7 linked regions of the Homo sapiens genome follow. The protein of the gene in region 3 interacts with the protein of the main gene of each other region in a biochemical or structural test. Each region holds a gene or a part of one and is shown on either strand. Other genes may lie near its edges.

Evidence for each region.
Region 1: the proteins of KCNV1 (region 3) and PDZRN3 interact in a test that uses a peptide from one of them, tested with the Homo sapiens proteins (one large-scale study listed by IntAct).
Region 2: the proteins of KCNV1 (region 3) and PTPN3 interact in a test that uses a peptide from one of them, tested with the Homo sapiens proteins (one large-scale study listed by IntAct).
Region 4: the proteins of KCNV1 (region 3) and MAGI2 interact in a test that uses a peptide from one of them, tested with the Homo sapiens proteins (one large-scale study listed by IntAct).
Region 5: the proteins of KCNV1 (region 3) and MAGI1 interact in a test that uses a peptide from one of them, tested with the Homo sapiens proteins (one large-scale study listed by IntAct).
Region 6: the proteins of KCNV1 (region 3) and SYNJ2BP interact in a test that uses a peptide from one of them, tested with the Homo sapiens proteins (one large-scale study listed by IntAct).
Region 7: the proteins of KCNV1 (region 3) and NHERF2 interact in a test that uses a peptide from one of them, tested with the Homo sapiens proteins (one large-scale study listed by IntAct).

The regions. Positions count from the first base shown.
Region 1 is NC_000003.12:73,387,442-73,390,941, reverse strand, and holds part of PDZRN3 (E3 ubiquitin-protein ligase PDZRN3), read left to right. Parts: intron 1-1,063; coding exon 1,064-1,126; intron 1,127-2,872; coding exon 2,873-2,974; intron 2,975-3,500. UniProt on the Homo sapiens protein: E3 ubiquitin-protein ligase. Plays an important role in regulating the surface level of MUSK on myotubes. Mediates the ubiquitination of MUSK, promoting its endocytosis and lysosomal degradation. Might contribute to terminal myogenic differentiation.
Region 2 is NC_000009.12:109,418,308-109,421,807, forward strand, and holds part of PTPN3 (tyrosine-protein phosphatase non-receptor type 3), read right to left. Parts: intron 3,179-3,500; exon of another isoform or gene 2,927-3,178; intron 2,294-2,926; coding exon 2,117-2,293; intron 1-2,116.
Region 3 is NC_000008.11:109,969,272-109,972,771, reverse strand, and holds part of KCNV1 (potassium voltage-gated channel subfamily V member 1), read left to right. Parts: coding exon 1-514; intron 515-3,500. UniProt on the Homo sapiens protein: Potassium channel subunit that does not form functional channels by itself. Modulates KCNB1 and KCNB2 channel activity by shifting the threshold for inactivation to more negative values and by slowing the rate of inactivation.
Region 4 is NC_000007.14:78,120,668-78,124,167, reverse strand, and holds part of MAGI2 (membrane-associated guanylate kinase, WW and PDZ domain-containing protein 2), read left to right. Parts: intron 1-3,500. UniProt on the Homo sapiens protein: Seems to act as a scaffold molecule at synaptic junctions by assembling neurotransmitter receptors and cell adhesion proteins. Plays a role in nerve growth factor (NGF)-induced recruitment of RAPGEF2 to late endosomes and neurite outgrowth.
Region 5 is NC_000003.12:66,028,919-66,032,418, reverse strand, and holds part of MAGI1 (membrane-associated guanylate kinase, WW and PDZ domain-containing protein 1), read left to right. Parts: intron 1-3,500. UniProt on the Homo sapiens protein: Plays a role in coupling actin fibers to cell junctions in endothelial cells, via its interaction with AMOTL2 and CDH5. May regulate acid-induced ASIC3 currents by modulating its expression at the cell surface.
Region 6 is NC_000014.9:70,410,591-70,414,090, reverse strand, and holds part of SYNJ2BP (synaptojanin-2-binding protein), read left to right. Parts: intron 1-3,500. UniProt on the Homo sapiens protein: Regulates endocytosis of activin type 2 receptor kinases through the Ral/RALBP1-dependent pathway and may be involved in suppression of activin-induced signal transduction.
Region 7 is NC_000016.10:2,036,902-2,039,526, forward strand, and holds the end of NHERF2 (Na(+)/H(+) exchange regulatory cofactor NHE-RF2), read left to right. Parts: intron 1-53; coding exon 54-97; intron 98-636; coding exon 637-699; intron 700-855; coding exon of another isoform or gene 856-885; exon of another isoform or gene 886-924; coding exon 925-1,083; 3' UTR 1,084-2,125; downstream 2,126-2,625.

The sequences.
Region 1 (3,500 bases), on a different chromosome or scaffold from region 3:
AACCCACCTCATCAAGATCTCTTTGGAAAGACACAAATTATTCTGTCCCCCTCATCACACTCCATGGCGCTGCATCTTTCCACGGAGGTTAAGTTCTAATGCCAGTACTTATGGCAAAATTACCCTTGAGAAGCCTGCAAATCAGCCATAAAATGGAGCCGTTTACATGGTTTTGTGTGTTTAGCCCCAAGGGAAGAGCAGATTCACATTTCCCAACTCGTGTTCATTGAGTGGAATGGTGGATGGAATCACTTACACTTTTTAAAGCCTCTCTCTCTCTCTCTCTCACACACACACACACACACATTTTTTTTTCTCTTGGTGGAGTATATATAGTTGACTTCATATAAGTTAAATGTGACTTGTATGTACTTATCAAACTACATAGATGCACGCTGTTTTGATCTTCCTTGAGAAGATAATACAAATCAACTGATTTCAGTATGGAAACTTTACAGTGCACACCCATCCTTGCAAACACAGAAACCCAATTTTGTCAGGAAATAAAATTTGTCGCTACAGAATGATCTACTAGACTTAATAATTATCTCTTTGGTTGTATGTCATTCACCAAGCTTAAGTTAACCCATCCTTTCTGCATTTGGGGACATCCCTCCCCTTACCAGTCCCCCTTGTCCCAATTATATTTCAATTTTAAAGTTATTTTCCAAATTTTAATACAAGTATTTGGTATAAAATAAGGTATAGTTGCTAGTCCACATAATGAAGGGTATCCTTTAACCTGTTCTACATCATTGATTTGATTTTAATTACCATGCATGCAACAAAAGTCAGCTGTGCCTCCTCAGATCAGCAGAGCCTGCACACACTGCTGTGTAACAGGGTTGCTACACAGGGATCCAAGAACCAGCCCTAGAAAGGGCTTAGAAGCAGATCAGCTCATGTTTGCCTCTCCTTGCACGACACTAAGTCTTGTTTATTTCTGTGCAAAACAGAAACACAGGGGTGAGCATGACTGTGTTTTAGAAATGGTTTTGAAAGTGCTGTTGCTTATTTTCATGCATGTCTGCGTTTGCGCTGAGATGGTCCATGTGTGTTTCAGATTGACCCTAACAGCATTGCAGCCAAGGATGGGCGCATCCGAGAAGGAGACCGCATTATCCAGGTAAGTCCACTTCCAAACAATGGCCTCATGATGGGCCTATCACTAAAGAACAAACTGGTTCTAATGATAGGTCTAGGGTTGAAAATGCAGAAGCGGTTAAAGAACAGGGATCACAAACGCAGATGTGTAGTGAGGCCAGACAAGTTAAACTAATTGTGAGGCTATCTCTGAGTCATAAGACGCAAGAGGGAGTGGTGAGGACTGGGACAAACTAGATGGGGCATGTTCTCTCCAAAGAGGGCCTTGCAAAATTTGAGCCAGTTCTCCTTATTTTGTTTCATTCTGTTTGGATCAAAACAAACATCAGTGAGCCAAAGTCAGGCCAACAGTTTACAACTTGTGAACTAAAATAATTCTCGTTTTAGATTTCTCTGAAAGATTAACTTTGGACCAAGCATTTCAGAGGCTCGTCCATAAAAGGGGAACATTTTTGGCAAATTTAGCAGCATCGATTGAAAAGTCTTAGAAATTTTCTGACTCAACATCTAACCATCCTGGAATCGCTTCTAAGGGTCATTACTTGACCTCGAGCCCTGTTGCTCCGTCTAGTCCAAATGAGACCATTCATGTCTCTTTTGGCTACAACCTTCTTTAATCTCACAGAATTGAAATTCTTGGCTTCATTGTGTCCACAAGGCTTAGCTTTCTACCTCTTCTCATCCGTATCCTCTCATTCTTAATCCACTGTGTTTTTCTCATTGCATACCTCACCACAGGTCATTTTGATTTTCTTCTTCCACTGCCTACTCTGGGTTTCTCTAGCCTTCAGCCAGAACCTGTGCTGCTCAGGATCGCTTGCCCTAGGGAAGTGACCCAAACCTTCACACCTGAAGGGTCAGGGTCCTCAGCATACTGCCTCTTTTTTTTTTTTTTTTTTTTTTTTTTGATTGCTGGAGTTTTCCATTAACCTTTACTACTGAGAATGGAAGCACTCAGAGGTACTCCAAGGAATCCCCTAGGTTCCAGACACAATCCTCCCTGCCTCCACTGTGTCACAGCAAGCCCATCTTCCTTGGTAATTGAGGGCAATCACTCCAACCAATAGAGTCACCCCTTTTGCTGCCTGTTGGCTCACTAGTGTAAGGAGGCATATGGAAGCCTCCACTTCCAATTCAGTGGAACCATTGCTGTGTCCCCTGGAGGCGGCGTTCCACCAGGACTAAGACCTCCAGACCAGCAGGGCTCAAAGTCACCAGGACATGCAAGCAAAAATCCTGCAAGAGGGTTAATCAAGTGTGATAGTGAGAGTGTCACGCCCACTTGACCCTCCGCCTGGCCCAAAGAAGTTTAAGTGTCAAACTGGGGACACAAAACACCATGTATAATTCTATTCCATTTTCTTAACCTCAGTTTGCTGCTTTTTCTTCTATATTATCCAATAATGTCTACATATACTCCTGCCTGAATATTATGTCTAATTGCTTCCATGTTCCCTCTGCAGAGCATTATGATTTTTCTCAGTGCCGTCTTCTGGAGGTCCAGCCCCTTCTGTTCACACCCCACACATCACAGTCACCTCATGAACTATACTCATGGAGGCTCCCTTATAGACCAGAGAAACTGCATTGGTCTGAGCAAGACCTTTCCTTCCTAACATCAGTATTCTTTTCCAGCTACACGGAAGTTGTATGTTCTAACTGTGAGTGGGTGACAAATGCAGGTCTGAAATAAAATAGAATGATTTTGCACCATCTAATCATGCTATTTGTCTCCCCACTCTCCCCACCCCCCCTTTTTTTTTAAAAGATTAATGGGATAGAGGTGCAGAACCGTGAAGAGGCTGTGGCTCTTCTAACCAGTGAAGAAAATAAAAACTTTTCATTGCTGATTGCAAGGCCTGAACTCCAGGTAAATTGGCTTCCTACAGATGAAACTGGGTCTATATTTCTAAAATCAAAAGATCCCCAGGCCTGCAAAAGAGCACCTGAGTATTGGCTGCGAACTTGAAGGTGCTTTGTTCCCTGGAAATGTAATCAAACTTGCTGTGATTCAGAATTCACTTTATGAGTTAGCCATTTAAGGTTGGTTAGATGCCCACCCTGGCATCTATACTGCAGGCCCACGACGTTCATTAATGCAGGGATCATAGGGAAGGAAAAGGAAACAGAATTGAATGGAAAACACAACCGGGGTCACGTCAAGACATTTGACTTCCCAAGGCCTGACATATGTTCCAGCCTTGATCTGTGCAGGTTTCATTTACAATAGCAGAGTATGGGGAATTAAAACTTGCTCTTTCAAATTAAAAGAAACATTGAATGATAAATAATTAAAACTGATATGACCACCGAATAAGTGCTAGGCCCTCCGTGGAGCACTTTACACACAGGAGAGCCTTCCCAGGAGATGGAAGTTCCCAGAGATTCAAAAGTTA
Region 2 (3,500 bases), on a different chromosome or scaffold from region 3:
AATGAATGCAAGCCCTCTAAAGTGCCTGCATGTCATTGGACAGAATGCATCCCTCCCCACCTGGCACTGATTGCATAAAGAGACAGAGGGTGCTGGGCTGTGAGGGCACTCAGAGGCTATCCACCTGCCCCATGCCACAGATGAGCAGCTGGGTGAGTGGTGTGGAGCGCCCAGACTGCAAGCAAGGTGATGATTCCAAACCTACTCCCACATGAATTCTGTGTGAAAAATGCACTTTTCGCTTGTAGATATTCTAGGGGTTCACCCTTTAAATGAACGATGGAATAAACGTGTTAGTCTAGATGAGTGCTGCTGACAACACTTTCTGCAGTGATGGGAATGGGCTGTATCTGTGCTGTCCAAGATGGAGGCCAACACTCCTGTGTGGCTGTCAAGCAATTCAAATGAGGCTCATGTGACTGAGGAACTGAATGCCTACATTTTTATTATTTTAATTAATTTAAATCTGAATAGACAACTGGGGCTGGTGGCTGCTGTACTGGACAGGGAAGGTTTAGATGCTGTACAATTCTGTGATGGGACTGCAAACCACCACAGGAAGCTCTGACGCAGCAGGTGTGAGTGGGCTTCCCAGAGCCCTCCAACGCTTCCCTAAACCGTTTTCTCCTTTTGCCAAAGCCGCAGAGCCCCCACTGCAGACTCAAAACGGCTCTAGTCACGCATGCCTGCACTCCTGCTTTGTATTTCTAGATGTGCTTGTGGTTTGAAAAGCTACAAAGTCACACAAAGGAACTCACAATCATCCACTGTAGCCCTGACAAAGGGGCAGCAGGCTGCAAGTTGGAACAAGAGATAGCAATCATTTAGCAAAAGCATCATCCAAGCTCAGGTCACAAGGAAAGAATGACCACAGGGATTATTTAACCAGAGGTGTTAAGAACACAGATAAACTGGAAACCATGTTTGCTGTGGGCAAGGACAGAGGAGAGGTAGCAGCCTCACATACAAATGGGAAGGAGATTTGCAATTCACCTGCAAATGCCTGGAGTCCAATCAGGGTGCATTTGATGCTTTCAGCCTAATAGCTACAGTGGTAAAAAATTTACAGATTAACTAACGTGCCTGCTTGCTAATCCTCAGCTGTTAGGGGGGCCATTATCTTACTATATTTTAGAAATAGTATGGGGCTTAACAGAATAGATACCCAATGACTATGGTTGATTTCCTAACAGTTGATCCTTTACTATCATGCTTTAACCTAATTTATAATCTATGTCTTACCTACTTAAAAAAATGATTTGCGAGTTTACCCCAAAACGTACAGATATGTAACTATGAATCCATTAAAATAAGAAAAAAAAGACCCATATAACAAAGGCAAATGAGGAAGAGAAGGTCCTATACAAGAAATCTGGGCTGAGGGAAGTGAATACAATTGAGCCTAATGTGCAGTTCTGAACTCCCTGGTAACCAAGGCAAAAAGGGAAACAAATGGGTTAAATATATCCTATTGAATAACAAAAGCACTCAACCATCTTTCAGGACAGACATTTTTTCTGTCCTTGAGCTATGAGGGAACTCTGTCACGTTAAAAAAGCGGGGTGGGGGAGGTAGGACATAAAAATTTAACAAAAAATTTCTCAAAGAAAATTAGAGATGTTCTAACGTTTGTTTCTTTATACTAACTATTAATTGAAAACAAAACCCCTCAGAACCCTGTTGTTCGGAGAAGGCTTTTAGAAGCAAGCATATTTCCAATGATTTGAAATCATGTGATGGTAAAACTTTAATAATCTAGAGAAATCAGAGTTAGCATGGCCCTAGAGTCTGTACCTCCAGAACAGGGAATGATTAAACTGGGCTTTGCTTGTGAGCTGGAGAGGAGACTAATTCAAGAGACTAACAAGTACTTAGTGACTAGGAAGTCTTTGTCGTGGACAAAAAGAAGTACAAGCTCTAGACCCCAGGCACATAGACCGTCTTCCGGGTGAAAAGGTAGAGTCTGATTTATGTTCTTATCCTGGCAGAAGGCACCTGTGGGAGCTGGCTGCAGGCACCAGCTCTTGGTTCCTCTCAAATGGCAACCTGGACCTGAGCAAATTCCGCAACAGCCAAAAAGCAAATACCCAGAAATAAAACAACACGAGTTTCTTACTCTTGGTGCGGGCTTCGGTTCTGAGAAACTTCAGAATCGCTGTCTTGAGGGGCCAGAGAGCCCTTGTACGTGTAAAATACATCTTCCGTTTCCGTGATGTAGGTCATTTCATTTGCAAGGTTATCTGCAGAAGAGTGGCGTGGCTTTCGGATTTCGTGCCGGAGCCGAGGACTTCGCCTGGGTGGGAAAAACGTTGAGTGCAAAGTGTTCAAAGCAAATTCCACTTAAAAATTTTATTAGACACCAGTGAACCTCGTGTCCTGACCTTTCTAAGGATGCCTTCCTTGGCGGAGGCTGACATTCAGAGCCGGTTAACTCATTACTACCCCAGCAGAAGGCACCAAGGGTGACACAAATCCCTAACACTCTCAGTCAAGTGGTGGCTCCCAAAACAGTAGCCTCAGCTGTATAAACAGGCAGAATTAGATGGGTTTATGCCCTTTGGGAAGTGACGGGTATTGACTTAAGGGTAAGTTATTCTTCCAGGAGGACTCAAGCTCTCAAAACATAAATAGGCCATATGGACTGCTATTCAGATAATTTTTCTGATTAATTTGAACAATGCAAACAAAAGGGTTAGAAGCCAAACTACATTTCTCAGCAAAACTCCAACCTTATTTCAACGACATCCCTTCATGTGAATTTCACTTGATCCAAGAGAAAATGTTTGCTTTTTAAGATATATCCCTTATTAAACACGTTTATATGCATTAGATGGGCATATAAACACTGGACTGTCCTCCAACAGTGGCAGTAGGCATGTGACCTTGGGCAAGGCACGTCACCTCTCTGGGCCTCGGCTGTACTTACCTGCTCCTGAGAATGAATCCAATGAGGCCGTGTTCTCAGGGCATCCAGTGTGGCACCTGGGCGTCAGCTCCTGCAGCGGGGGATCCCAAGCTGCCAAGCTTTCTAAGTTCTATTTTCCCTCACAGTTTTTCCATCTTCCCTTTCTTTGTTAGCCATTTCTCCTCAGGACTGTCAGGGCCTCCATGATTTGCAATCCCCCTGGGCCTGGATAATCAATAATGCTGTGTCCAAAGCAGAAGTAAAAAGGCTCTTGTGACTCCTCAGGAGAGGACCTATAAATAGCCACAGGAGCTCCGGGCCACGAGTGTGGCAACATCCAACCCCGCTGTTCCCCTGGATCCAGTCCTGGGCTCTCTGGGCCCCTGGCATTGCTGCCGATGAGATTTTCAGATAAATTAAGCTGCTGTGTTATAGCATAAATTTACCTCTTTAGAATGAGGTATCTAAATGTTGGAAACCAAGAAGCAAATCTATTCAGTTACGTCATGATTTCTAACACTAAATACTATCACTGTCCCTTCCCAGAGCATTAGGCCCCCAGTGAAGGGGTCCTTCCCTAGCAGGCCCAGCACAG
Region 3 (3,500 bases):
GAGCTGAGTGAAACTTTAGACTTCAAGAAGGACACAGAAGACCAGGAAAGTCAACATGAGAGTGAACAGGACTTCTCCCAAGGACCTTGTCCCACTGTTCGCCAGAAGCTCTGGAATATCCTGGAGAAACCTGGATCTTCCACAGCTGCCCGTATCTTTGGCGTCATCTCCATTATCTTCGTGGTGGTGTCCATCATTAACATGGCCCTGATGTCAGCTGAGTTAAGCTGGCTGGACCTGCAGCTGCTGGAAATCCTGGAGTATGTGTGCATTAGCTGGTTCACCGGGGAGTTTGTCCTCCGCTTCCTGTGTGTGCGGGACAGGTGTCGCTTCCTAAGAAAGGTGCCAAACATCATAGACCTCCTTGCCATCTTGCCCTTCTACATCACTCTTCTGGTAGAGAGCCTAAGTGGGAGCCAGACCACGCAGGAGCTGGAGAACGTGGGGCGCATTGTCCAGGTGTTGAGGCTGCTCAGGGCTCTGCGCATGCTAAAGCTGGGCAGACATTCCACAGGTATTCACATTTCACTGATGCCTTTTAATTTGCCATTGCATGTAAGCATTCGTTTTTTGACCACAGTACAAGGAAAGTAACGCTGAACTGATATTCAAAATTACCAACTCCCATACTTTACCTGATCATGACCTCTAAGGAGATATTGGGAGGCAAAACATTGAAGTTGCTATCACAGGTATAGAGAAATGAGCTCTCACATACCTCCTCTCCATAAGAGAAATGTTGAGAGACAATTTGACCATTTGCTAACCTCAGTTTATTTGAAACCATTACCCAGAAGATATACAAAAATTAAACGCACTCTGCCTATTCAAGGTTCTGGACAAAACAGGCATAAATGACACATAAAAAGATACACATAAATTATATATGATATATAGGGACATAAGCCAATTTCTCTTCAGTATCCGAGAAGTGCTTGCCACATATGCTCCTTGGCAGAAGAGAAAGTCAGCCCTTCAGAGCCTTCTCTGGCCATGCAGAAAGAGAAATGACTAGGTGCAGGTGGCCTTTCCAAAATTTTCAAAGAAGCAATGAAAATATTTTGCTTTGGGAGAAAGCAAAATAAACTAATTAAATGCTTTATCTAGTATCTGAAGGTTTTCTTGTCCCTAACCTGGGATGTATGAGAGAGGGGAATACAGAAATCCCTTAGTTTTTTGTGTATCACAGAGCCTTTGAAAATCTAATTAATATTTTCCTAGAAAAGTCTCCATATAACACACACACAAACACATAAGATACGTGAAAATTATAATCAATATCAGTGAAAATCACAGGAACTGATTAAAAATGATTCTTGCATCCCCAACAGTAGTAGTTATCAGTGGCTGGCCTTGCAGCTGTCAGATATTGTGGAGTATATGAGTTTCCTTATGACATACCTTAATGAAAATAAGGATCCCCAGGCAAGCTTGTTGAAATACAGCTTCTGGCTCCAACCCCCAGAAAGCTTGAGATCGGGTCTAGGAGCACACATTTTATAAATAATAAGTTCACCAATGACTTTGATGTAGGTGGTTCTTGGACCAAACCTAGAGAAACACTGGAGTATGATGCCATATTAATTTTATATATGTTGATACAAATACATATTAGCACAAACAAATTGGCTAGATATCACTATCCTTATTTTATTTCCCTAGATATGTGCCCTGACTGACCACCTAAAAAAGGTTGATGGTAGTTGTCCTTCCTATAAATGTCAGGTGAAATTACTTCTGATATGTTTTTCTTCAACATTTCTCTGACAATTAGAACTTATTATAATATAATTTTGGTAGTGTATTTTCCTAGCTAGTCTCACATACCAGGAATTTGATAATGGGGTTTCCAATAACTTTTACAAGTACCACTCTTTGTTTTCTGACACAGATAATGGGATGCTTTCTTCAAGTATTTATAAACTCTTCACAAGACTCAATTTAAAAACACCCAGTAAAAACTACATTTTTTTCCAAAAGAAAGGAAAAGGAAAATAACAGTGATTTCCACAATGTCTCCTCTTCAAAGATTTTCACCATTCTAAAACAAGTATAAAGTTTTAGTAAACCCTTAATTATTAAAAAATATGTGACTTGCATATTTGACAATTTTGCCTCAACACTACATTTATTAAAATGTACACATAGATGACCTATTTCCCCATGTATTAATTATAAATTCAAATTGAGAGATGTTATAGGATAATGGGTTTTTGGCCAGAAACTAGGTTTAAATCCTGGCTCTGTAGCTTTCTACTAGATAAGCTATCTCTTTATGCCTCAGCCTCCTCGTCTGTATAATGGCATAACAATTACCATGTCCCTCTTATATCCTTTCTTTTGAAGATTCTCTGAGTTAATAGAGATAACATGCTAGAAATTCCACCCACTTTGTTTTCCTTTACAAAATTGTTTTGAACATTTTGCCTTTAAACTAAAACAGTGTTCCCAGACAAATGCTATGCATCTCCTCATATGCTGTGAATTTATTTAAGGAACATAATTCCATGTAGACACATCAAGGCCAGTTTTTTATAAAAGTAAAGGTATTATAAAGGTATTCTGAAAGATACTCTTTTGAAGTTAAACTTCAAAATACTCAATGATCTTTAAAAATAGCTGGTTAATAATTCAAGAATATCTCAAAATTTGAAGAGCAAAATTCAAAATCCTAAGAGTATGATTAGTATGCTAATGCCTTTGAAATAGTCTCTAGTGAGTGAATAAAAACAAAAAATGATTCTAAGAGGTATTGTTTTGGACTTCTGGGGCAATATCATTTTGACATCATGTTGATATAATTTCAAAATGTGGACAAACTTTAATAACCACCTCTCTAGTATTAGGGAATAAATCTTATGGTTCATTCAAAGCCTGGTTCCATAATGGGCTTTTCTTTCTTTCTTTTTTTTTTTTTTTCTTTTTTTGAGAGGGAGTCTCATTCTATTGCCCAGGCTGGATTGCAATGGCGTGATCTTGGCTCACTGCAACCTTCGCCTCCCAGGTTCAAGTTATTCTCCTGCCTCAGCCTCCCGAGTAACTAGGATTACAGGCACGCACCACCACGCTGGGCTGATTTTGCTATTTTTAGTAGGGATAGGGTTTCACCATGTTGGCCAGGTTGGTCTCAAACTTCTGACCTCATGATCTGCCTGCCTCAGCCTCCCAAAGTGCTGAGATTATAGGCGTGAGCCACCGTGCCCGGCCCATAATGGGCTCTTACTCCCCTTAGGCCTAGTGTCTTCAGAGACGGAATTGGACTATCGTGGTTCTGTCTCCCTGGGGTTTAATAAATCCTCAGATCTAGGAATGGAAAAGCAGCCAATGCTTCATAAAGAGTAAATTCTCTAGTGGTTCCATTTCCCATACCTTTTTGCAATGGAGGAATATTCTGTATTCAGGTCTATGTTATTATAGGAAAGCAGAAATTTTATGTACTCAAGGGAGATAATTTCTTACAGCTTTGGTATTAAGGAGTAGGGTTTCAGTGGGTGTCTTGG
Region 4 (3,500 bases), on a different chromosome or scaffold from region 3:
TGAAACACAGTAGGAAGACCATGTGCAAAATGGCCAGAGCCCTGTGAGAGATAGAGACCCACGGTGGACTACAGGGCTGGTCTCTGTCGGTTACAAACAGTGGCCATGTATTTTCACAAGGGATCTAAATGACTCGCTGCTGGATATACACAGTACTCCCAAGGCAAAGAAGCCTAAATAGAGAAATACCCTTGCAGGAAAAGATTCCTCTTTCTTACAGAATTTAAGCCAGAGCAATGGTTCTCAGCACGGTTCCTGGCATCAGCATCACCTGGAAACTTGGTAGAAATGTAGATTCTCTAGCCCCACCCAAAACTGCTGAATCAGAAACTCTAGGAGTGGGGTCACCAGGCTATGTTTTAGGAAGCTCTTCAGGTGAAACTCTGAGGTTTTACCTTCCGAGGTTTTATTATAGATACCTGTGTCAACTGCAATCCAAAAATATTACATAAAATTTTTCAGAAATAAACAATTATAAATTTTAAATTGTGCAGCGTTGTGAGTATCGTGCTGAAATTTTGTCCTTCCCAGAAGGTGAAACAGCCCTTTATCCACACTGTAGATGCTACCTGCCCACTGGTTACTCAGCAGCCCTCTCGATTATCAGATTGACTATCATGGTATCGCACTGCCCGTGTTCAAGTAACCGTTGTTTTACTTAGTAATGGCCCCAAAGTGCAAGAGTAGTGATGCTGGCATTTTGTTATAATTGTTCTTTTTTTATTGTTTTTGATCCCTTGCTGTGTCTAATTTGTAAATTAAACTTTATCATAGATATATATAGGGAAAACAGTGTATATAGGGTTAGTTCTGCCTGTGATTTCAGGCATCCGCTGGAGATGTTGGAATATATGCAAGAGGTATGAGAGGGAGCTACTATATTCACTTTATCAAAAAACCAGTGGAGAGTAGCAAGTTTTGACTTTAATTATTATACTAGATGGTTTTTCAACATCAGTTAATACTGATGTATTAAAAGTTGAATAGATAAAACAAAACACAATCTGTGAATGCAGAAAATAAGGGGAATAATAAAAAGAGATATATCATTGTCACGTCTGCTTGCTTTTCTTCAGTCAGTCAAGAAGGCTGGTGTCATAAGAGAAACACAATGGACATTCAGATTTTAAGGAAAAGGATAATAAATTATTAGAAAATATTACTGGAGCTGTTTATAAAAAGAAGACTTACGTTTGTAAAATGGCCTAATAAAATTGGGAGGGATGAAATTTTCATAGCTAGTGAATAAAATCTCTGATACAAAGCTCCTAGGAATATAACCTAATTAAAAGCCAAAACTAAATAGAAAACACAGGCAAAAAATAATGAACATAAAAAATAATATTGGCAAAGCTCAGTAAAACAGGGAATGTAAGAAATCAGGAGACATTTGGAGGGAAAGAATAGAAATTCTAAGTGCTTAAATAAAAATCTGAGAGTCAAGTTAAAAGAGAAATCTGAAAGGAGATCGTTTGCTCTTAAAATGGTAAAATATTTTCCTGTTTCCATAAAAGTGTAATATAGTTCGCATTTCCATAAAATGTATTTTTATGATGAAAAAGAACATTATTTCATAACTTCATCACTTGCAGCTGGGTACCATTTGTGTATGCCTATTTAGCATCACATAAGCTTATTTATAAGATGGTTTACCTACTTTCTGAAACTCACATGATGCAAAAGTCTGCCTGCAATGGGCTTTGGAATGACTAAAACATTTTGTTCAACCAATCAATGCACAAAAAAATATCATTTGCCCATCTTTTTTTTAAAGGAAAAGCAACATTCCCTGAAATTAGCTTCTTCTAAATTTGTCACCTTTCCTTCTATAGACCAGATATAACTAGTCAATACAAAAGCATCTTGGTTTATATATTGTTTTTATTAAACATAAAACGATTTACAAGAATATTTCTAACATATGTAATAAGTGTAAATACTAACCATGATTCAAGGACCCATGAACCCATAGCCCCACTTAAAAAACAGAACATTACCAAGCTCCCATGATTTCATTCTCCTCCTACTCTCCAGCCCTCAGAGGGAACCACCTTCCTAAATAAAGCACTTGACATTTCTTCTGTTGTTACCACAGATGTGTGTATCTCTCAACTATAACCTTTAGCTTGGTGCACTTTGTGAACTTTATGTAACTGAACCATACTGTACATGTTCTTCTCTGTGGTTTGCTTTCTATATGTTATGTTCATGAGATTCATCCAAGGTTGGTGCATGAAGCTATAGTCCATTTATTTTTCACTGCTATAAGTTATTTCATTATGTGAATATGCTACAACCTATAATAATTATCTATTTTTCCATTTTATGGACATTTGAGATTTTCCCTGTCAATTTACACTTTGGTTGTTTCCAAGTTTGTTGTAACTCATACAATCTTTGTACATCTTTCCTGCTGTACCTATGCAAGACTTTCTCTAGACTAGACTAGATGCCTTGGAGGGCACAAATTTAACTTACCTAAGTAACACAAAAGTATTGTCCAAGGTGGTTTTACAAAGTTATACTTGTATTAGCATATGTAAAAAAGTTTTTCTTACTACACACACTCACAAGATTTGTACGTCAGACTTTTAAACTCTCATTCTGGTAGGTAGAAAATTATATATTTTAGATTTGGATTTGCATTTCTTGATTACAAATTCATATTCATCATTTTTTCTTATATTTATTAGACGTTCATGTTCTCTCTTAACTAAAAAATGCCTGTACATGTCTTTCCTCATTTTCTGTTGAATATTTCTTCATGTTGATTATAGAAATGCTTATATATTATTGGTGATCTTTTTCATCAATTAATGTGATACAGATATCTTATGCCAGCTTATGGCTTGCAGTTTCACTTTCTTTATGATGCTCTTTGATAATGAGAAAGTCTTAATTTTAGCGTAATTGGCTTAACCCTTTTTTTTTTTTTTATAGTTTCTGCTTTCTGTGTCTTGTTTGAGAAATCATTCTCCAAGACATGGTCTTAAACGTCTTCTCTTATATCTTCTTCTAAAAGTTGTATAGTTTTACTTTTTATATCTAAGTATTTAATCACCTACAGTTGATTTCTCTGTATGATATAAGGTAGAACCTCAATCTCAATTTTTCCATATGGATAACCACATGTCACAGCATCATTATTTTTTTTTTTTTTTTTTTTTGAGACGGAGTCTCGCTCTGTCGCCCAGGCTGGAGTGCAGTGGCGGGATCTCGGCTCACTGCAAGCTCCGCCTCCCGGGTTCACGCCATTCTCCTGCCTCAGCCTCCCAAGTAGCTGGGACTACAGGCGCCCGCCACTACGCCCGGCTAATTTTTTGTATTTTTAGTAGAGACGGGGTTTCACCGTTTTAGCCGGGATGGTCTCGATCTCCTGACCTCGTGATCCGCCCGCCTCGGCCTCCCAAAGTGCTGGGATTCCAGGCGTGAGCCACCGCGCCCGGTCCACAGCATCATTATTTAATGAGTATTTCTTTGTCCCACCCCCCACCAATCTG
Region 5 (3,500 bases), on a different chromosome or scaffold from region 3:
GAAACCCTGTCTCTACTAAAAAAAAAAAAAAAACAAAAAAATTAGCCGGGCGTGGTGGTGGGCGCCTGTAATCCCAGCCACTAGGGAGGCTGAGGCAGAGAATTGCTTGAACCCGGGAGGCTGAGGTTGCAGTGAGCTGAGATCGCGCCACTGCACTCCAGCCTGGGTGACAGAGTGAGACTCATCTCAAAAAAAAGACCCAGCAAATAATAGGTGCTCACTAAAATTGGTTGGATGCCTGAATGACTATTCCATTGTTTCGGAAGGTAAGTGCAACTAGGCCACTTGCAACATCTTTCCTCCCTTTCTCTCGATTTGTCTTTTACTTCTTGTTTAGGATCCAGAGGTCTTCACTTTCTCGTAATCAGATCTTCCAATTAGCAGGCTTTCTGTGTCTAATAATTTATACTGGGCTATAAATGACTGACAAGGATTAATGAATCCTATTCAAGTATTTCTGCCTGTTGACTCTAACTGAAGTTTAACAAGTGAGCCTCTAAACGTGAAATTTCAGATGTTCAGCAGGCAGGATGATGAGGATTTTTTTTGTTGATGTGGGACCTGTGTCCTCATGCCTAAAAATGATTCTTTCCCTCCGTTTTCTTGCAGCATTGTCCCTGTGTACTTTTTTTTTTGGCTAATAGCAAATCAGATCTTTGCTACAGAACACAATCCAATTTTAGCCCTCTCGCTCTTAAATTGTACTTTGTATTTATGTCTTTTTTTTTTTAACTTAAACTTTCAAAAATCAACCTGTTTTTGTTCTTGGTGCCAAAAGACCACTCTTGGAAGGATATTTTTAGGTTACACTGTGGAACACTGTACAGGTTTTACAAAAAATGAAGCAAGGACGTACAACGCACTTGTCCATCGTTTCCAGTGGCCACCCCTTGTCATTGGCTGTGTTATTTAAAAATAGATTAACTTGACCTTCTGTGGCAATGGCATACAGTTGGCTCACCGTGTTTCTTGGCATTCATTACCCAGCTGGTTTTAGATGGCAGAATTGATGATATCCACCAAGGGGAATTAAGTGGTTTATAAGAGAAAACATTCTGACATCTCCTTACCACAAGGGTTTACATGAAGGATGTTGCTTTGTAAACGAGGGTTATTTAATGCAAAGCACCACTCTCTGGTGTTAGTGGCCCTTTCCTTGAGTTTGTATATACAAGTAACAGGATATACTGATTTTGTATACACTGAGAATAAAGGCTGTCAAATTCGTTAAGGGCTGACATTCACATCCTAAAAAAGTAGGTTACTGCATGCCTGCCTGTCTTTTTGCAGCTCATATGTGAGATCTGTAACCTTGAAAAATCCCTAGTACACACTGGTGCATTGCTAGACTTCTCCCCTATGGAGGTCGGCATCGATGTAGTATTTCTTATGAATTCATTTTGTTGTTTCAACAGATGTCAAGGTTGGTCCTATCATATTGACTCTGCTTTCTAGTTAAGTGTCCTGTGGAGGGTCTAATGTGTTCTGGATGTCAACTTTTCCGAAGGCATGTAGCAAAATTAGAAAATGTAATTTGAGCAGTGTCTTTTATGATTAAATAGAAATCTTCTCTTTTTATGGCTCAGTAATTACATAATGGAATAATCCATTATTAATCATTTCTGTAGTCTCTGTATCTGAGTGAAAGCCGAAGTCCTTATAGTGACTTCCAAGGCTGCCCGTGACCTGTCCTAAGGATATTACTTCTCTTTCTCTGTCCTGCCTGCTAGTGCCCACCTGATCATCTTACAGGCTTGCTATCTCTTGAGCTTCAAGTCTTTCTGAAATGTCACCTGCCCAGTGAGGCCTCTTGTGAGCACATTATTGAAAACCATAACTCCACTGCCACGTGTCATTCCCTGTTCCCCCTCTCAGCTTTATTTTACTCCATAGTATGTAGATCGCTTCACCACAAGTAAATTTCTTATTTTACCTCTTTCTCTAGAATGTAAGCTCTGAGATGGCAGGAATGTTGTCTTGTTCTCCCACAGTATCCCCAGTAGCAAAAACAGTGCATGGTGCCTAGTACTTGCTTGGGTATTTGTTAAATGTTTACAGTCAAGTTTAGAACTAGAATAAATCTCTTCTGAGGTCAGTTACCTCTGAAAATGTAGATATATAGAAGTCCCTGAAAATTTAGGTGACTGATGATGGATCACATTAAAGTTGGTTAGAGTTTAACATTTACAGTCAATGGCTGGGGCTAAAATAGAGCTTAGCCGATTGATCCAGGAATATTCTTAAAGTCAGTGAACATTGCTGGCCTGCTTCAGTTGGTCTTAGTATTATGGGTTTACAAGTAAGAACATGTGGGTCCTTGGTTTCTTGTCAAGAAGGGGAGGGAAGAGTCCACTGGAGTCTCCTTGGAGTCAGAGATAAGGTCACATTTCCAATTTTAGGTTTCCCTGCATGGAAGAGGTCCTTGACTTTAAAATTAATTGAGTGTCCTGATTTTCAGAGGTTACTTTGATTTGGGAAATGACGGTAACAAGGGGTACCAGGTGGCTGATCCAAACAGGAGAGCTGAGGCTACTAGAGTCACCATGAAGATCTTGTCGAGTTAGGGATAGGTCTGTGCACAGCATCCCTTACTTAGCCAAGTCATTGGCCTCAGTCCACTTTCAGTCCTGTGTGCTCCCCACCAACATGAATCCCTAGAAGGCAACTCTAGGTCAGGATTTGAATGCACAGGGCTTATCTGGGAGGTGCTCCCAGGAAGTTCCAGTAGGGCAAGGAAGAGGTGAGACCAGTGAGTCAAGAAGGCCAATGGAGATGCTTTAAAGAGCAAGTCACCACTGTGTGTCTAAGGCAGCCCCATGCTGAGTGTGTCATGGAACTTTGCAGACTCTCTCACCCCTAAACAGACTGAGAGGTTCTTCTGGCTGTGTGTATAGACTTTTTCTGTTACCATCTCCAGTGTCATGAAGATGAGTTCCATAAGATAATTACATTCTCATGGCTAAGGTATCAACCCCACCATTACTGTGGATGGAGGCATTTGTGTGTCTGTTTAATGGGCCACAGTTATGCTTCTTACAATAAGGATAATCTTTACTCCTTTATGAGACAAGACTCGAGGCTCTCTTTATGGACAGGGGCATGATGGTGCAATTAAAAGGCGATCGTGCCCTGATTATAAGCCATGTTTCAAAATTACTGCTATATATAGTGTCATCAGGACCGTAGTACTGCTCATAAAATGATCCACAAATAGCAATTTACTGATGTGTCATAGAGTCAGATTTTGGACCCAAGGTTGGCTTGGGTGAAGAGGCAGGCTTTACACTTTATGAGCTGGGTGTTCTGGGGCAAGATGCTGAACCTCTTTGTGCCAGGTTTCCCCCTCGGAAAATGGGGATAATAATGATACCTACTCTCTAGGGTTGTTGGAAAAGTAGAAAGTAAACCACATGACACAGGGCTTGGCACATAGTGAGTGCTCAATAAATGTTGGCTTCTGTAATTGTTTGAATGCTCCCCATTTGAAAGCCCTTGGGAGA
Region 6 (3,500 bases), on a different chromosome or scaffold from region 3:
CATGAAGATATATAGGGAGGAGACTGTCTCAAAATACCACTAGAAACTAATCACCACTAGAAACTTCCACATAATTTTGATGGTCCCATAAGGATCTTTCTATCTATGGAAGAAATATGAAAATCCTCTAAGTATGCATTTCTTTTGTAGGCAGCATTGCCCACTCTTTGTGTTTGTATAGCTGTGTACTCAGGAACCTGATGTTTAATCAGATCCGAGAACATGTGTACCATTCCCCCTTTGTGTTCTGTCAGGGACAAGAATTGTGGATATTTCCAGTGTTTGGGCCCATATTATAAGGCAGTCGAACCTGTTCCTGACTGATCTGCTTACTGCAAGGGAAGTAATGAAATCTTGGGGAAATTATGACAACAGAGTGAAGAGGCAAAAGAAGCTTGACATGTATTAGGTTGGTGCAAAAGTACAATTACTTTCTTTTGTTCTTCTTTTTTTTGAGACGCGTCTCACTCTGTCACCAGGGTGGAGTGCAGTGGCACGATCTTGTCTCACTGCAACCTCTGCCTCCCAGGTTCAAGCAATTCACCTGCCTCAGCCTCCTGTGTAGCTGGGATTACAGGCATTTGCCACCATGCCCGGGTAATTTTTGTATTTTTAGTAGAGACAGGGTTTCACCACGTTGACCAGGCTGGTCTTAAACTCCTGACCTCAAGTGATCCACCTGCCTTGGCCTCCCAAAGTTTTGGGATTACAGGCGTGAGCCACCCCGCCCAGCCATAAGTACCACTACTTTCAATGGCAGAACCGCAATTACTTTTGCACCAACCTAATAGCATGGAATCTCTCCTGTTGTCTGCTTTCTCAACTGTAAGAAGGGACTTGGGCTAGATGACTTCAGAGGTCTCTTCCATCTCTAAGAGTTCATTCTTTGGCTCATTTTATGATTATTTATGTTATTTTATGTTTCCTACCATTTGGAACTTCGTTTTGTTTTTATTTCCTGCCATTTTAGACTAATAGTATGAGCTGAAGAATTACAAAGGCAGTGGCTACAATCTCAAATGTCTTCAAGGGTTGAACAGTTTACCTTTTATCTTTAGTGGAATCTTGTTTTTTTCTACAGGAGTCCAGCTTGATTATAGTATCTAAGGCTCTCACTTTTTCTTTATCAAATTGAAAGTCTCTTAATGCGTCTCAAAACTCAGTTACTCTAAAAAGTGTGACAAGACTGTTTAATATGTTTTTTTGCACTGCAACAGGTAAGAGATTGGCCATAAAGACAACCTTACTGTACATTGAGTACTATGATTAGGAATCTTGTTTTTAGGTCCGAGTCCTCAATGGGTTTCAGCAAGTTACTCCTGATATGCCATCTTTAAAGAGGGAAGAGAATATTTATTTTCTTACTTTCTTTAAAGGCCTTGGAAAAGATGATGGGTTGATGGCAGTGTTTTAATAATGAATACTAAAGGAGGTATTGTCTTTCCGGTAGTGTGCTAGTTACTATATATACATATATATACTGTATATATACTATACATACATATATATACTGTATATATACTATACATACATATATATACTGTATATATACTATACATACATATATACTGTATATATACTGTATATATACTATACATACATATATATACTGTATATATACTATACATACATACATACTCATTTAATCTTCACAGCAACCCTGAGTAATAAATATTTAATCCACATTATTAGATTGGGAAATTGCCTTGGGGAGGTTAAGGACTTGCCCAGTTTCTAATGCCAGTAAATTTCAAAGGATTTTTAACCCAGGTGTGTTAATTCTGCTATACCATATACTACTTTCCACTGCAGTAGCCATGTTTAAGAAGTTGACTGCCAACCTTTCCCCTGACCTTTATTTTATTATATCATGCCTTATTCCCAGAAGCATTTGAGGCATCTTAAATGACTAATACAACCTACAGTGGAAAGTTTTTATTGCTTGCTCTTGATAGAGCTGAGGGCATATCAAGGTGAGTACCTAAAATCAAGATGCCCCATTAAGTTCTATCATTTAAGCCTTGTAGACCTGTCATAGGCTTTGGGTTTCATGCTAACTGAAACTGTTGCTAGCAGTTTTCTGATCTATTCCTTTCTTCACATATCAAATAGATGTGAGGCTAAATGCTATATCCTTGCCCTATTTTCTCTTGCTTACACAAAGTCTCGCCTTCATGGAGTTTACAATCCAATAGAGATATGATGTTCACATATGAAAAATTAAATCTCACTGCAAAGGTGCAGATAGTTAAGGAAAATGATGAGGAGGTAGTTAGTGGGAGGGCAAAGGAAGTGCGGAAAGGAGCATGGTAATCTGACCCTGTGTTGGGAAAGTTCAAGAATGCAGACACTGCTGAGAACCATTAAAATGGTCAATTAAAAGAACGTGGAACTTGTGGGTCTTCTGGAATGGACAGGCTTTAGGCTAGGGCCAGAGTCAGGGATGAGTATGGCCTAAGCAATAATAGAGAGAAGAAAATAAGCAGAGCATATTCTGAGGTTAGTGAGTAAACCAGCCTGGACAGAAGGAAAGTTTCCTTTAGGAGATTCAAGAGAGAAGAGGTAGCTGAGTAGTAACCTGAGTAGGTGGAGATCAGATTATGGAGTCTTTAGTGTTAGTATGGAAACTTAATCTTTCTCTAAAGTTCTATCTGGATTCTTTCTACTTCCTAGCCATTGATTAGGACTCAGTTCAACAGTTAGCTCCTCCAGGAAGCAGGCTTTACCTAGGATAGATGTTCTCTTATTGTCTATATTATACATCATTTACAGATTGCCTGTAATGTATTCCCATGTATTGCCAAGCTAAGCACTGTATCTTGTCCCCTTGTAAAAAGGAAGAGATGAAATGGTTATTATCCCCATTTCAGAAATGAGGAAACCTTGACTTCTGCATTATACAACTCTTTAAGTGAAGATTTCGATCCAGGTCTGTGTGACTTAAAATTCCAAGCCCTGAATCATTATAAATAACTTTTTTTTTCTATATGCTTTCTCACTTATGTCTCCTCCTTCTACTTCACTTTGAGCTCTTCTGAGTCAAAGAACATATATTTTATTTCTTATTTTCTTTCATTTAACTATTATTTTAGGTTCAGGGGTACATGTATAGGTTTGTTATATAGGTAAACAGTGTCATGTGGGTTTGTTCTACAGATTTTTTCGTCACCCAGGTATTAAGCCTAGTACCCATTAGTTATTTTTCCTGATTCTTTCCTCTCAACCTCCACCCTAAGTAGGCCCCAGTGTCTGTTCTCCTCTGTGTGTCTATGTGTTATTATTTAGCTCCCACTTATAAGTGAGAACATGTGGTATTTGGTTTTCTCTTCCTTTGTTAGTTTGCTAAGGATAATGGCCTCCAGCTGCATCCACGTTCCTGCGAATGACATGATCTTGTTCTTTTTCATGGCTGCAAAGTATTCCATGGTGTATATGCACCACATTTTCTTTGTCCAGTCTACCATTGATGGGCATTTAGGTTGATTCGATCTCTTTGCTGT
Region 7 (2,625 bases), on a different chromosome or scaffold from region 3:
CAGGGTGGGTGCGGTGTGGTGGCTGAGCAGCCACTGACACGCTGTCCCCACAGGTCCTCTGCCGTCACCCGTCACCAATGGAACCAGCCCTGCCCAGGTAAGAGGGTGGGGTGCCCATGAGACACAGGGTGCCTCTGGGGGTACCCAGGCCCGACAGAGGCCCCCTTCTCCCTGGAGATCCGTCCTCGAGGTGTGCTAGTGACACCCGATTTTAGCCCTGTCACCTCCCTTTAATGCCCCTGTGGGTCTCATCCTGGGTCGTGCCACACACAAGCCACGTGGGGCCCCTGGGGTCGGGGCCACTGCCTTCTGTCCTCTCCTGGGCACCACCTGGTAAGGAGTTGCCCTCCAGTCTCTGCCTCCTCAGGGAGCTGGCGGTGGCCTCACCCCAGGCGTTGCTCACGCCGGCCATTCCTGCACCTGAACCCCCTCTGCACCATGAGCCGGCCAGGCCACCTGCCTGTCACTGCCAGGCGCCCGGTGCCTGCCCCGCCGCATCTGGAGTCCACCAGAGGCCCGAGGCCCCCTGCCGAGTGGAGGAGCACACACTGGGGGGGGGTGTGCCTCTGTGCACATGTGTGCGTGTGCAGGTGTTGTGTGTGTCTGTGAAACCACAATCTGCCCTTGGTTTCCCAGCTCAATGGTGGCTCTGCGTGCTCGTCCCGAAGTGACCTGCCTGGTTCCGACAAGGACACTGAGGTATGGATGTTCTCCACTCCTGAGCTCACACGTGGGGTTGCTAGAGGCCTTGGGGTAGGCGTCTGTGGAGATGTCAGCCCGGGCAGTGGGGTCTCTGTTCAGGAAGTCCTCGTGAGCCCCAGCCCCAGCAGGCAGCCTCTGTTGGTTGCTCCCTAGGAGGGGCCACCGTCTGGGGTGTGGGACTAGGGCTCACTCCAGACACCCCACCCACCGTGCTCACCCCAGGATGGCAGTGCCTGGAAGCAAGATCCCTTCCAGGAGAGCGGCCTCCACCTGAGCCCCACGGCGGCCGAGGCCAAGGAGAAGGCTCGAGCCATGCGAGTCAACAAGCGCGCGCCACAGATGGACTGGAACAGGAAGCGTGAAATCTTCAGCAACTTCTGAGCCCCTTCCTGCCTGTCTCGGGACCCTGGGACCCCTCCCGCACGGACCTTGGGCCTCAGCCTGCCCCGAGCTCCCCCAGCCTCAGTGGACTGGAGGGTGGTCCTGCCATTGCCCAGAAATCAGCCCCAGCCCCGGTGAGCCCCCATCCTGCCCCTGCCCACCAGGTACTGGGGGCCTGTGGCAGCAAGATAGGGGGAGAGAGACCCAGAGATGTGAGAGAGAGTCAGAGACAGAGACAGAGAGAGAGAGAGAGAGACACAGAGAGAGACAGAGAGAGAGCGAGCGAGCGCGCGGCAGCCGCGGGGCGAGGGCCTTTGCTGCTCTGCCGGGGCCTGCTGACTGAAAGGAATTTGTGTTTTTGCTTTTTTTCCAAAAAGATCTCCAGCTCCACACATGTTTCCACTTAATACCAGAGACCCCCCCCCTTCCCCTCCCCCTTCCCCTCCCCCTTGGGACGCGCTCTAAATAATTGCAATAAAACAAACCTTTCTCTGCAAACCATTTCCTCCCCGCCCCCTCCCCTCAGCAGCGGCCGTCCTGAGTGGGAGTCCCTGGGACTTCCCAGTGGCCAAGTTGGGGCGCCCAGCCTCTTCGTGGGGACCTTGGGTAAGGCCAGGGAGGCCTGATGTGGCCGTAGGAGCTGCCCCTGCCCACCTGCCCTGGTGTGGGGGTCCCTAGGCCACACCCTGCTCCCCACCCAGCTACCCTGTGCGCCTGTGCCCTGCTGGGGGCCTGGGCTCTCCGAGGGGCCTGAGGATGGAGGCCCCACGTCCCCGAGGAGGGCGGCCTCTGGACAGGCCCCTCATTCCGCGCGGCAGCTCCCAGGCCTGGGGAACGTAGGTGTGTGAGAGCGGCACCCGGGAAGGACGCCTGGCCTCTGGCTCAGCCCTGCTTGGCGGGCTCCCCCGTGGACACCCTGTTGACTTTGCACTTCCCTCCCGGGCCCCGCACCCCCGAACCGACCACCGATCGACCGGCACCGCTGTTGCCTCGTAAGCCATAGCGCATGCGCGCTCTCAGGATAAACAGGCCCTGCCTGGGACCCACACGCCTCTGTCTTTTCTGAGCCTCCTCCCCGTGGGGTGAGAGGGGTGGAGGGATGAGGCTGTTTCAGGGAGCCCCCTCCCCGAGTCTCAGCAGCTGGAAACGGTCTCGTTCCTGAGCCCGTGCCCTGCATCCATCTGCTCCCAGCCCTGCTCCATCTCCCCCGCTGACCCCCATGGGACCCCCTGCTGTGTGGCACATCCTGGGCCCATGCCCATCTCTCTTATTTGGCAGACTCAGCCTCCCACCTTCACCTTCCCTGTGAAGCCATCCGGCCCCACACAACACCCACACGGGCCACCCTTTGCCCAATTCACCCTGCGACCTCTAGCAGTCACAGGTCAAGCTTTGTACCCTGTGGCGCCCTGCCTGGGTCCCCAGTGTCCCTTTCAAGGCCGGGTAGCTCTGTAAACAGGGGTGGGACCCTGGCAGAGGCTGGGCTTTGAGGGCATGAAAGTTCAGGAGCTGGCGGTGTCCGGGCTGGGAAGCTGGGGGGCC